3 linked regions of the Homo sapiens genome follow. The protein of the gene in region 2 interacts with the protein of the main gene of each other region in a pairwise test. Each region holds a gene or a part of one and is shown on either strand. Other genes may lie near its edges.

Region 1 (3,748 bases), on a different chromosome or scaffold from region 2:
TACGGGTTGTCCTGTTTGACTCCAAGTTCACTTTCTGGGCCACAGTAAAGGCCACAGAAATTGGTAAAGTCATTTGTGAATTTGCAGGACAAAGGGAAGGCCACTGCTAACACTGGTCCCCAGGCTTCCTGACCATCTTAACGTGGCATTTGAGGACACTGAGGCCCCTGGGCCCCAAAAGATCAGAGGGTCTCAGCATAATTCCCACAGGTGACCTAAGAGCAAGGCCACAGAGAGACAAAGAACAGTGCGGTGGTTCTGGAATCGGATGGGCCTGGGTTTGAATCCTGGCTTCATCTGCCCTTTCTTTTTTTGTTTTTTTGAGACAGGGTCTCGCTCTGTCGCCCAGGTTGGAGTGCAGTGGCGCGATCTCAGCTCACTGCAACCTCCATCTCCTGAGTTCAAGCAATTCTTGTGCCTCAGCCTCCTGAGTAGCTGGGATTACAGGCATGCGCCACCACACTTAGCTAATTTTTGTATTTTTAGTAGGGGGGGGGTTTCCACCATGTTGGCCAGGCTGGTCTCGAACTCCTGGCCTCAAGTGATCTGCCCGCCTTAGCTTCCCAAAGTGCTGGTATTAAAGGTGTGAGCCACCGTGCCTGGCCTCCATCCGGCCTTTCCCAGCCTTGGTTTCCTCTTCCCATCCCGGCTTACCCTCCAGGGGGTCCTTGGCCAGGCCCAGCTGCCCAATGATGTACTGTGGAAGGTCAGTCTTAATGCCTTGGCCCTCCCGCGCATGGCCCTCAGCCGCCTCCAGCAGGTGGTAAAATTCCTCAGGGTCAAACTCCTAGGGGCACAGGAGGGCTGGTCACCCAGGGCTTGGTTCCACCTGCAGGCCTCTGCACATGCTGTTCCCTCTGCCTGGAGCACCCTTCCCAGCTCACCCACTGGGTCTCCACTCCCGCTGCCTCCTTAGGGAAGCCCACGCTAGCCCAATAGCACCCTGTGTTCCTCTCAAAGCCCTACACGATGGGAACTGTCACCTGTATCTTGGCAGGACTGTTGTGGTCCCAATCTCAGTTCTGCCTGGACCCCAAGCTGGCCGTAGAAAGAGAAACTTACCAGACACTCCAGCAGCCGAGCTGGCCGTGAGATGATGATCAGCAGTTTCCGGACAAGCTGGACGATGAAGCTGACCTCCTCACTGTCCGAACGCTCATGGGCCTGGGGGAGGTGGGTCGTGGCATCACCCACAGGTCCTCAGCACCGTCTGGCCTGGGGACCCCCCTCACTCCACGTCCCACTGCATGCAAAACCTCAACATGCGAAAAACCACGCACATCCTGCAGAAGCCGCTCCAGCTTCTCCTGCATCTCTAGGAAGTAGCGGGAGGTGACGAGGTTCTCGCCAGACTTGGCCAAGCAGTCTCGGGCCAGCTCGACGATCTGGTGGTGGATGAAGCCCAAGACGCCATCAGCCAGCGCCAGCCGGGCGCCGGGCGCGTAGGCCGTCAGGAACTCCTGCAGACGGCCCTCCATCTGTGCTGTGGCCTGGGTGGGGCGAGACGGGGCGACCTGGTCAGAGGGCGGGGCTGGAGTGACACACGCAGAATGGGGCAGGAGAGGCATGGTTGGGGAGAGAGGAGATGGGGCAATGGGGCGATCGGGTGGGAGGGCTGGTGCAGGAGGAACGACATCTTTCAACGGAAGGGGAAGGAAAGACAGAAATGAACAGACTGGCAAAGGGGACATAGCCAGGAAGACAGAGTTCCATGGAGGGACAGCAATGTGGAAAGAAGTGCAGGGGCTGGTCCAGCCGCCAGGCGCTGCCCACCTTGGGGAACCTCTCCCGGTACACGTGATTCATCATGACAATCTCATTGTCGAAGGTCCCCGTTGCACGGCCCGGGCTGAAAGGAAGACAGCTGGCTTGTGATATGGGACCTGAGACCAACCCCAGGGGAGGATGTTGGGGGATCTGAGCCAGGGTTGAGGGACAAGAATCAGAGGCTAGGCTCAGGCAGGGTCAGGGCTGGGGTGAAGGAGGAGCCACAACTTGGGCCTCCACACCAGCCCAGGGAGGGGCCGGGGCTGGGGCCAGAGGTCGCGGCCCACCTGAGACTGCGAGAGCGGGGTCGGAGGCGGGGTGACCGGCCGCCTTCCTCATCAAGCACATTCTCTGAGCTGCGGAAGTGCTTGGACAGGAAGTGCAGCTCGTCCGGCGTCGGCTGGAAGGGAAGCTGGTGGAGACGTTCCCGGGAGGATGAGCTTGACTGGTAGAGAGTGGTGGGGATCAGAGCCATGAGTTCACCGTCAGTGCTGTGGCCAGGAACCCAGCACCACCCCTCAAGGCCCAGGCTGCCTGCTGGCCATCAGAAGGTAACATCCTTTCTCCTGCCTAGCTCCTATGCATCCCTCAAAACCCTAGCTCTGATGCCCTCTCCTCCAGGAAGTCCTCTCTGCCTGTACCCCTGGGCAGCCCCAAGTCCCCCTCTGGTCAGGCCCTGACCCCATAGGCTGAGGATATCTGTATCTCCCCAACCAGGGACTATTTTGGGGCCAAGGCTGGGTCTTCTCAGGGGACCCTGCATTTCCCAGAATGGGGCGTGCATGGAGGAAGTAACTAGTATGTTTGCTGACTGCACAACTATCCAACACCTTGAAAAAAACACACAAAGATGTGTCCCCCCACAACCCGGCATCTGCCTGTCCACCTGCCAAGGTGGGGCTATGGGTACCGAGAGGGTGGAGCTGGGTGTGTTGGTTCCATAGCCGGAAGATGGGAGAGACGCGAGGGACCATCTTCTGCCGTCTGCCCTGGAGAGGGGAACAAGAACAGATGGAAGGAAGGCCTGGCCCCTGTGGTTTGTGGGGACTAAGAACAGACACTGTGGCCAGCATATTCTGGCCCTGTTGTAGGAAGGATCTCCTGAAAATAACCAAGAACAGAGACACAGGCTGACCAAGTCCACTGCATGCTCTCTCTCTTTAGGTACCTCTTCCAGGAAGCCCCCCCGTGAGTCCAGCTGCCACTGTGTCCCCTGTCAAAGCTTCAACCTCTGAGCTGTAGCTTCTGGGGCACACATTGACCACCCCCCACCAAACGGAGGACTCCCCAGGGGCTCAGGGCCAGCTGCCCATTTGCGACCATGCCCTCAGCCCGCAGCACAGAGCATACACACAGTGGGTGCTTAATGAATGTTGTTGTATGAATAAATAAATGAAATGCAAGCGTCTGGCACATGACAGGTGCTCAATCAGCTCTTGTTAAGTGAATGAATGAATGATTTCTTTAGTGAGTTAATGATTCTTAGGGCTATATCCCCCCATGACCCCCCACCCCCTGGGCTGGTTGAAATTACCTGTCCATGCGTGGGATGTGGCTGCAAGATGGCATGCATTTGCCGGGAATGGGAGCCAGAGGGGGAGACCACCACCAGACGGGCCAGGGGAGGGGAAAAGGTGAATGAAATGAATGAGGAGCCAGGTCTAGCCACCGAGCACGTGCCCCTGCCCAACCCTTGCCCGTGGTGCCCGCACTGTCTCCCAAAGCCGGCAATCACTCACCTCCGGGCAAAGGGGAAATTTAGGGCAGAGGCAGCCGAGAAATTCCGAGGACTATCCAAGGGGCTGCTGCCTGCTGAGGAGGAGGCGGGGAAACTGAGTCAGCGGGGCAGAGGCAGGACACAGCACCCGCTGGCTGCTCCCACACTCACCCGTTGGGACCGACAATGGCGACAGGGGCCGGGAGAGGGTCGGGGAGGGCGTTCCTACCACCAAGCTCTTGCGGTTCCCGCTGCGGCAGCTGT
Region 2 (3,748 bases):
CTTCTTTCAGAGTGATGGATACCCTGTGACATTAAATGAGCCCATTCTGAACTGAAACACGAAATCACGGGAGCCAGGTACTGTGAGGGGACATTTGACTTGTGCCCATGAGTTTGTCATGTTTTTCACATATCAGAACTCTTAACATAGTCAAGTGATATGCCATAGCAAATGTCTGATTACTGCCTCTGTTCCCCAAATCTAAGCCTGATGATACAGCAGCAACATAAATTCCTGGACAGGCCTCATAGCCAGTTCTTGGAAAGCAAATGAGCTTTTCCTTTAAAATCCAAGAAAAAATAAAAAGTTGTATTTGCCAAGCTTGTTTGTCATTAATCAGGAGGGGAAAATTCTCCCATTTAGAGAATTTAAGCCAAAGATAACTTTTAAAACTTTTTCTATCTCTAATAAAGAGTGGATGAAGGGAGTCTGCCAAATTATTATGGATGATATCTAAATTATAAATAAGATTTCAATCTTCCCTAAATAGGTTCTATTTCATCAGAACATTCAATTACAAATTTATGCAGTTAAGCATTCAACCACAAAGGAATCCTACTTTTGAAAGACCACCTGACTGGTTTTCCTTTAAGCGAAATGTAGGAAGAGGCTCCTCTTTCCGGAGAGCGCTAAGTCTCATTCTCTTAGCAGCGAGGGCACAGCTCTTAATACTGAGACTCGCCTCAGCCAGTGCTGGTGCTCCTGAAGCCTGCAGTACATTTCAGTTATTAGCCTGCATTATTTTAAAGATGCAGGCAGCTACTGGTCTGCCCAATTGCAAACTTCAGAAATCTAAGCCAATGCAGCATAATGTAAAGTCTGCCAGTTGTTTTCCTCTTAGACATAATTCCAATAAAATTCAGTAGTTCTTTAAAAAAGAAGAAATGAAGATATTCACAGGCTATTCCCCCGATAAGATGCTAATTTCATGTTTTACTAGAACTTGGGCATTCTCAATGAATACTCAAAGACCAGAGGGTAAGATTCTGCGAGTAGACAAAAAGAGAAATGACACTTTGCCTATTTTGACCAGACCAAGAGGAGAGACAAGTGTTAACCGGTCACATTGGCAAGATTTTTAAGTGATGCTTGGTTTACAGCAATACGCTTTGCAGCAATCCCAGCTGCAAATAATCATCATCAAACCAACAGAATCAAAGTTTTGCAGAGAGCCCCCCAGCAAGTTTTAAATCATTTGCTGTATACTTACAGGAATTCCCAGCTTCGACTCTGTTCCAATTTTGAGTAGATAACAGAAGTAGCGTCTTGAGGACAGCTCCCGTGACAGATCCCATGTTCACATTTATTGGGCTCCCCCAAAAGATCTTGAGAGGCTCTCAGAGCGCTCCAGTCCTCTTCTCAGTAGCTCTGCCAGCTCTGTCTGGGTCTTCAGCCCCTCTAGGTCTCTGTCTCTCCCCCTCCCTTCCTCCTCACCTCCCTCCGTCTTTTCTTCTTCCCTCCTCCCTCTCTTCTCTCTCCCTCTCTCTCTCCCCGTCTCTGTCTCTCTCTTTTCTCTCTCTCTCTCACACACACCTCCCTGACTCCTCACTGAAAAGCACTCAGCATCTTTCCTAACAAGCATCCACACCGCCGAGGCCACGCCCACTCCTCGCAGCAGCGGTCCCACAAATTGGCAGCAGCATCCTTCCTTCCAAACACACAACAGCGCTCGAGCTCCGCTGCACCCAGAGGCGCGGCCTCCCGTTCGTGGGCCTCCTTGGGGCTCCCTCCCTTCTCTTCTATTTTCCAATAATCCTTAACCCTTTTCTCCCAGCTGGAGGTGTGAGTGGGGGAAGGGACAAGGCGGTGGAGCCTTCTGATTTTCTGGAGGTCTTGCATTTGCAAGAGCCAGAAAACACACTGAGCCATTCCTGATTATCCGGGAGTGCATCCAGGTAAAATTGCATTATGTTTCAAAACAAAAGCATAAAATAAGACAGAAATAACTAAGCAGCATTGGGAAATTGTAGCTAAAACCGTCCTCAGGGAAAATACTTGCTGTTGTTTTTCTCTGTTTCTATAAAACTGTACTCTTCAGCGAGGGTGCCAGGATTTTATTATGGAAATTCCCCACATGGGAACAGACATTCCTGCTTAGCAGATATTTAAAATCATCTGGTAGTAGTCTGCAAGAAATTAACATTTCTTATTTTAATGCTTCAGGTGTATAAATCCACAAATGAAATGCTTTGGCTAGATTTATGTTGATGAATGCATCATGCTGTGAATATGAAGTACCATTCTATAATCAAAATTTTTAATAACATTTCCAAAAAGGCCCAAAGTAGGAAATGAGGGAATACTGAAGAAAGGGACCTCCACCACCACCACATACACACATGCATACACATTCACACAAACACTGAACAATGTGACGATGTAATTCAGGTGACTTAAAGGAGAGAGGAGTAAAGTTGAATTTGGAAGATCAATGATTAAAGAAAAATTACTCTTTGAATGGCTGGTCCATGGATACAACTGTTTCTTGAATGGAATTTTAAAATGTCTAAATAATGGAGTTACTATCACATAACAAGAAGCATGTCACATGGTTCATAGCAGATAAATAATCTATTTAAAATAAATGTCAAGATGTTTTACTGATAATGTGCTAGATTTTATACAAATGGAAATCCTGGAGTTCTTAAGTGCCTCTTGGTAATCACAAATTGGAAGAAACATAAGCCTTTAACACCACTTTCTTATGGAATAATGAGAGTGGGTTTGTCAAAGATCAGATAGGTTTGTCAAAGAGTGAGAAAATGACAGAAATACCCGTAAGAACTAAACATGCTTGTTTAGCTCATGCCTGCAAACAAAGCAGAATGCATCTTTTTTCTTTTCCTGTTTTACAAGAGAAAACAAGAACAGAGAATTTAAATGATTCGAAGAGGTCATAGAGTTAGTAATAAATGCTGAGGACTGGATTTGGCTTTTCTGACTCCAGTTTTACTGCTCTCACCCTAGGACTTATTGCCCCTAAATCAGAGTATACCTCCTTCCTGACCCTTGTCAGTGGCAGCAAAAACCTTAGGCCCTAGGAAAACACAGCAAACACTTTGGGAGGCCAAGGTGGGCAAATCACTTGAGGTCAGGAGTTCGAGACCAGCCTGGCCAACATGGTGAGATCCCATCTCTACTAAAAATAAAAAAAATAGCAGGGTGTGGTCGCAGGCAACTGTAATCCCAACTACTTGGGAGGCTGAGGCAGGAATTCGCTTGAACCCGGGAGGCAGAGGTTGCAGTGAACCAAGATTACACCACTGCACTCCAGCCTGGCCAATAGAGCGAGACTCTGTCTCAAAAAAAAAAAAAAAAAAAAAAAGGATAAATACAATAAAATAAAGAAAGGTCATGGGTTGAGTGTTTATTCTGTGTTCCTAGACTTGCATTCCTGATTTTATTTTTTCAATCATATGCTAAGTAAAAGCAGATATAAATTAACAGTTTATGTTAACTAATTATTGAAGGAGATTAAATTTTACTGAACACATACTATATGCCATTTGTTATCTAATTGAATAATTATATCAGTCCTTTGAAGAAAATATCATGTCTGTGGGACGGTTGTGGGCTCTCCAGAAGAAAAAAGTTGTCTCGTTGTTACAATATTGTATTTAATTGTTCTCTTAAAACAAATTAGAGAATGCATCTTAAATGGATAAGTACACATAGCAAAAATGAAAAATAAACATTTTATAACAATAATAACTTCTTTGGGACAATGTATAAATTATTATAGTGACCA
Region 3 (3,748 bases), on a different chromosome or scaffold from region 2:
AAATTATCCAGGTATGGTGGCGCATGCCTGTAGTCCCGGCTACTCGGGAGGCTGAGACATGAGAATTGCTCGAGCCCAGGAGTAGGAGGTTGCAGTGAGCTGAGATTGCGCCACTGCACTCCAGCCGGGGAGACAAAGCAAGACTCTGTCTCAAAAAAAGAAAAAAGAAAGAAACTTCCATGAGACATTTTGAGGAAAGAAAAAAAGAAAACAAAACAAAACAAAACAAAAAAAACCCACCATGTATTTCTGCAATACTTAAAAAAAAAAAAAAACCCAAAAACTTTTCAGGGATAATGAATGCAAGACAATTCATTTCAGGGAGTAATAACTCTGATTTATAGGTAGCTTTTAATCCTCTGTTACCTTAACAAATAATGCAGTTCACTACTGGGTAGAACCTGCAAAGCCAGAGAGAAGAACCACATTAATTTCGTCAACCCTTCTGGGAAAACAACCGGGAGAAATTTACAGTGTTCAATCATTGATGATTCCCCAAATAACGGAGGGGTTGCAAAAAAAATCCGTTGAACCCATTTGAGAAATAATGCTGATCTGGACTCCGTCTACATTGTGCTGCGTGGGTCCCTCCCTGCTCCCTCCACCCCCACTCTCTCTCTGGCTTTAGAAAAGTAAAGCTGGCACAGACAAATGGCTTCGTGTTGTTGGATAGGAGGAAAAGGACACAATGACTCTTGCAGCCATCTAAGTGAGTAAGGGATTGTGAGAGCATTGAAAAGGGAGATACGAAAAGAGCTGGATGAGCTCATGCCTGCAGACCCAGACACATACACCAGCAAGCCAAAGCTTAGAGCCACATCAACAGATCCTTACGTGCTCTGAAAAGAACCTCTTTGAGAACGAGGCTACAATCTTCCGCGCTTCTAACCCAGCTTTTTGCCGAACTTTATACTCTTCCAACCAATTGACGTAGTCGGTGGGGCTGTAGTGTTTCATAAGGGAAGGCCACCTACGAGGAGAGAAACACCCCCTCAGCTTAACAGAAACTCAAAGGCAGGCGGCCACGAATCCAAGGCAGCCTTGGAAACAGGGACAGCAGTGGCGTCCAGTGGTAAGAGGGACCCCGGCGAGAGACCTAGTTCAAAACCCCACCAGCATTCACTCACTCACTCCCGGTGTGACCTTGGCGTAGCGGCATGAATGATGTCTCCATTCCCCATCTCTAAAATGGGGACAGTTGTAACAACAACAACAATAATAATAATGACAATGACAGTGAGCACTGATTGAGCGCCTCCTAGGAGCCGGGGCCCTGCGTGCGTGCCTCCCGGACATCATCTAATTTAATAAACACGGTGAAAGGTAGGTCTAATGATCACCACCACTCAAAGTCTATGAACGAGGCTCAAAAAAAGGGAAGTCGCTCCCCCCAAGGTCACAGAGGGAGTGTGCAGGGCCAGATTTCATCCTGGGGCCACGCTGAAATCTGTGCCGTCCACAACCAGCCCGGGGATGCTGCGCCCGCCCGATCGATGCATCACTGGGTCCATGTAAACATTTCAGCCCGAAGTCGGGCACAAAAGAAGCGCGCAAAAGGGACGAGCCGCGCCGCCGCCAGCGTCACCCTTGACGGAGGACCCGGCTGCGAGGCGCTCCTAGATGCGCCATTTGGGGACCCGGGGGTCCGCCTGGCGTGGCCCCGCAGGGTCCGGGGCCTGGAGGCCTTTGTCTGTCTGTCCGCGGGAAGGGGTCCGGGGTGGGGTCCGCGCGCGGGGCGGCCGCGGGGAGCTAGCGGGGCGGCTGCCCGGCCCCGGGGGGCGCGGGGCGGTGGGCGCGCAGCCGGGGCGCGGGGCCGCTGGCTCACCTCACCCGGAACTGCTCCTTCCACACCTTCCCGCTGCTCTGGCACAGCTCGCGCAGCCGCCGGCAGGTGCTGGAGACACGGCCGATGTCGGCGGCCGTCAGCGAGCCGCAGCACAGGATGTACTCCAGCACCTCACCCGGCAGGTTGACGAGGCAGCTGAGGCCCGCTACCTCCGGCGCGGCCTCCTCCGCCAGCGCCGGCACCACCTCCATCGCGCTGTCGACTGCTGCCGCCGCCATCTTGTCCGCGTACCTGGGGCCGCCGCGCGCGCGCGTGCGAGAGTGCCCGGGCGCCCCGCCTGGCCCCGCCTACTGGTCTTGGGGGCGAGTCCTGAGATCGCTCCGCCCATCCGCGGGCCACACCTCCCCTGCATCGGCTGGGGGCTGCGCGGGTGGCAGCGCCGCAAAAGGGAGGACATAATTGGGCTCTGTGCTTGGAGCCGGCAGCGCAAGCCGCCTCTAGTCCGGGACAACAATAGTAGCACTGATTCTTTTAAACGTAATTAATGTTTAAAATTAACAAATAAAAATGGTATCTATTCTCACGCGTGCTGAGCGCTTTCTGTGCGCATTGGACCTTTCCGAATTACCCTGCGAACTTTCTCCCCATATTACAGATGGGGAAACAGGTTCGGAGAGTGAGAGGGCTTGCTCAGGATCCCTTGTCTTGGATTTTTTTTCCCCCTTTGGGAAGGAGTCTTGCTCTCACCCAGGCTGGAGGGCAGTGGCGCTATCTCGGCTCACTGCAACCTCTGCCTCCTGGGTTCAAGCGATTCTCCTGCCTCAGCCTCCCGTGCGGATGGGATTACAGGCGCGCGCCACCACCCAGGTTGGAGTGCAGTGGCCGTGATCTCGGCTCACTGCAACTTCCACCTCCCTGGTTCAAGCAATTATCCTGCGTCAGCCTCCCGAGTAGCTGGGATTACAGGCGCCCGCCACCACAGCCAGCTAATTTTTGTATTTTTAGTAGAGACAGGGTTTCACCATGTTGGTCAGGCTGGTCTCGAACTCCTGACCTCAAATGATCCACCCACCTCGGCCTCCCAAAGTGCTGGGATTACAGGCGTGAGCCACCGCGCCCAGCCCCTTGTCTTGGATTCTATTTCAGATCCACTTGACTTTTGCTTGTCAGTAATCTTAACCATATGATGTAATAATAACAATATTCTTGAGTGGGTGCTATGGGAAGCCCTCTATGATGGTGTAGGGGAGTAATAATAATCCTCAAATGTGTGCCCTGATTTTAGGCTAATAGAGGGCAGGCAGAGAGCTCTCCTGTACTGGTTTCTTAATTGTTTCCAGCTCAACAATCCTTCATATTTGGGGAGCATAGTCTGACCTCCCACAATAGGTACCACAGTTATACCTATTCTACAGAAAAGGCAAAGTTCTTCCAGGTGGCAGTCACTGGTTCAAAGTTACAGAGACAAAAGTGCTAAAGCCTGGATTTGAGTCTTCAAAGCGGGAGTTATCACTCAGGATTGGGAGGGTAGTCTCAGGATCTGCACATTAAAAAAAAAAAATCAGTTTAGTTCAGTGCCAAAGCCCTGTGTTGTGTGCCCTGGGGATACAGGGGTGAGAAAAATGGAGTCTTTGCTTCAAAACCTCAAAGTGCAATTACAGTTAGAAGGATCTGTTGTCAGTACATGGAGGGTCCAATGAAGTACTCCTGGCAACTTGGAAATCAAGATGCCCTGAGAGAGCTGAACTAGTAAAGTGACTCTCAATGGATGGCGTTGAGCCATCTGTGGCTCCCTATTTCCCGTAGAAATGAATGTGACATCCCAAACATTGTTGCAAAGCAACAAACTCCACCTCTTCTTACCTATCTGAAGTCTTTCTCTCTCACTAGCCATGCATACCCCAGCAAGGCTGGTCATCTCTTTCCTCCCATTTCTGGCCCTACATATACTATTCCTGCTGC

What was found.
Region 1: the proteins of CNTNAP4 (region 2) and MAST3 interact in a two-hybrid assay, tested with the Homo sapiens proteins (one study listed by BioGRID and IntAct).
Region 3: the proteins of CNTNAP4 (region 2) and FBXO21 interact in a two-hybrid assay, tested with the Homo sapiens proteins (one study listed by BioGRID and IntAct).

Annotation. Positions count from the first base shown.
Region 1 is NC_000019.10:18,121,681-18,125,428, reverse strand, and holds part of MAST3 (microtubule-associated serine/threonine-protein kinase 3), read right to left. Parts: intron 3,745-3,748; coding exon 3,656-3,744; intron 3,580-3,655; coding exon of another isoform or gene 3,577-3,579; coding exon 3,507-3,576; intron 3,323-3,506; coding exon of another isoform or gene 3,302-3,322; intron 2,757-3,301; coding exon 2,678-2,756; intron 2,213-2,677; coding exon 2,055-2,212; intron 1,850-2,054; coding exon 1,774-1,849; intron 1,491-1,773; coding exon 1,281-1,490; intron 1,165-1,280; coding exon 1,063-1,164; intron 788-1,062; coding exon 655-787; intron 1-654.
Region 2 is NC_000016.10:76,275,210-76,278,957, reverse strand, and holds the start of CNTNAP4 (contactin-associated protein-like 4 isoform 1 precursor), read right to left. Parts: upstream 1,558-3,748; 5' UTR 1,296-1,557; coding exon 1,211-1,295; intron 1-1,210. UniProt on the Homo sapiens protein: Presynaptic protein involved in both dopaminergic synaptic transmission and GABAergic system, thereby participating in the structural maturation of inhibitory interneuron synapses.
Region 3 is NC_000012.12:117,188,393-117,192,140, forward strand, and holds the start of FBXO21 (F-box only protein 21), read right to left. Parts: upstream 2,079-3,748; 5' UTR 2,065-2,078; coding exon 1,826-2,064; intron 971-1,825; coding exon 835-970; intron 1-834. UniProt on the Homo sapiens protein: Substrate-recognition component of the SCF (SKP1-CUL1-F-box protein)-type E3 ubiquitin ligase complex.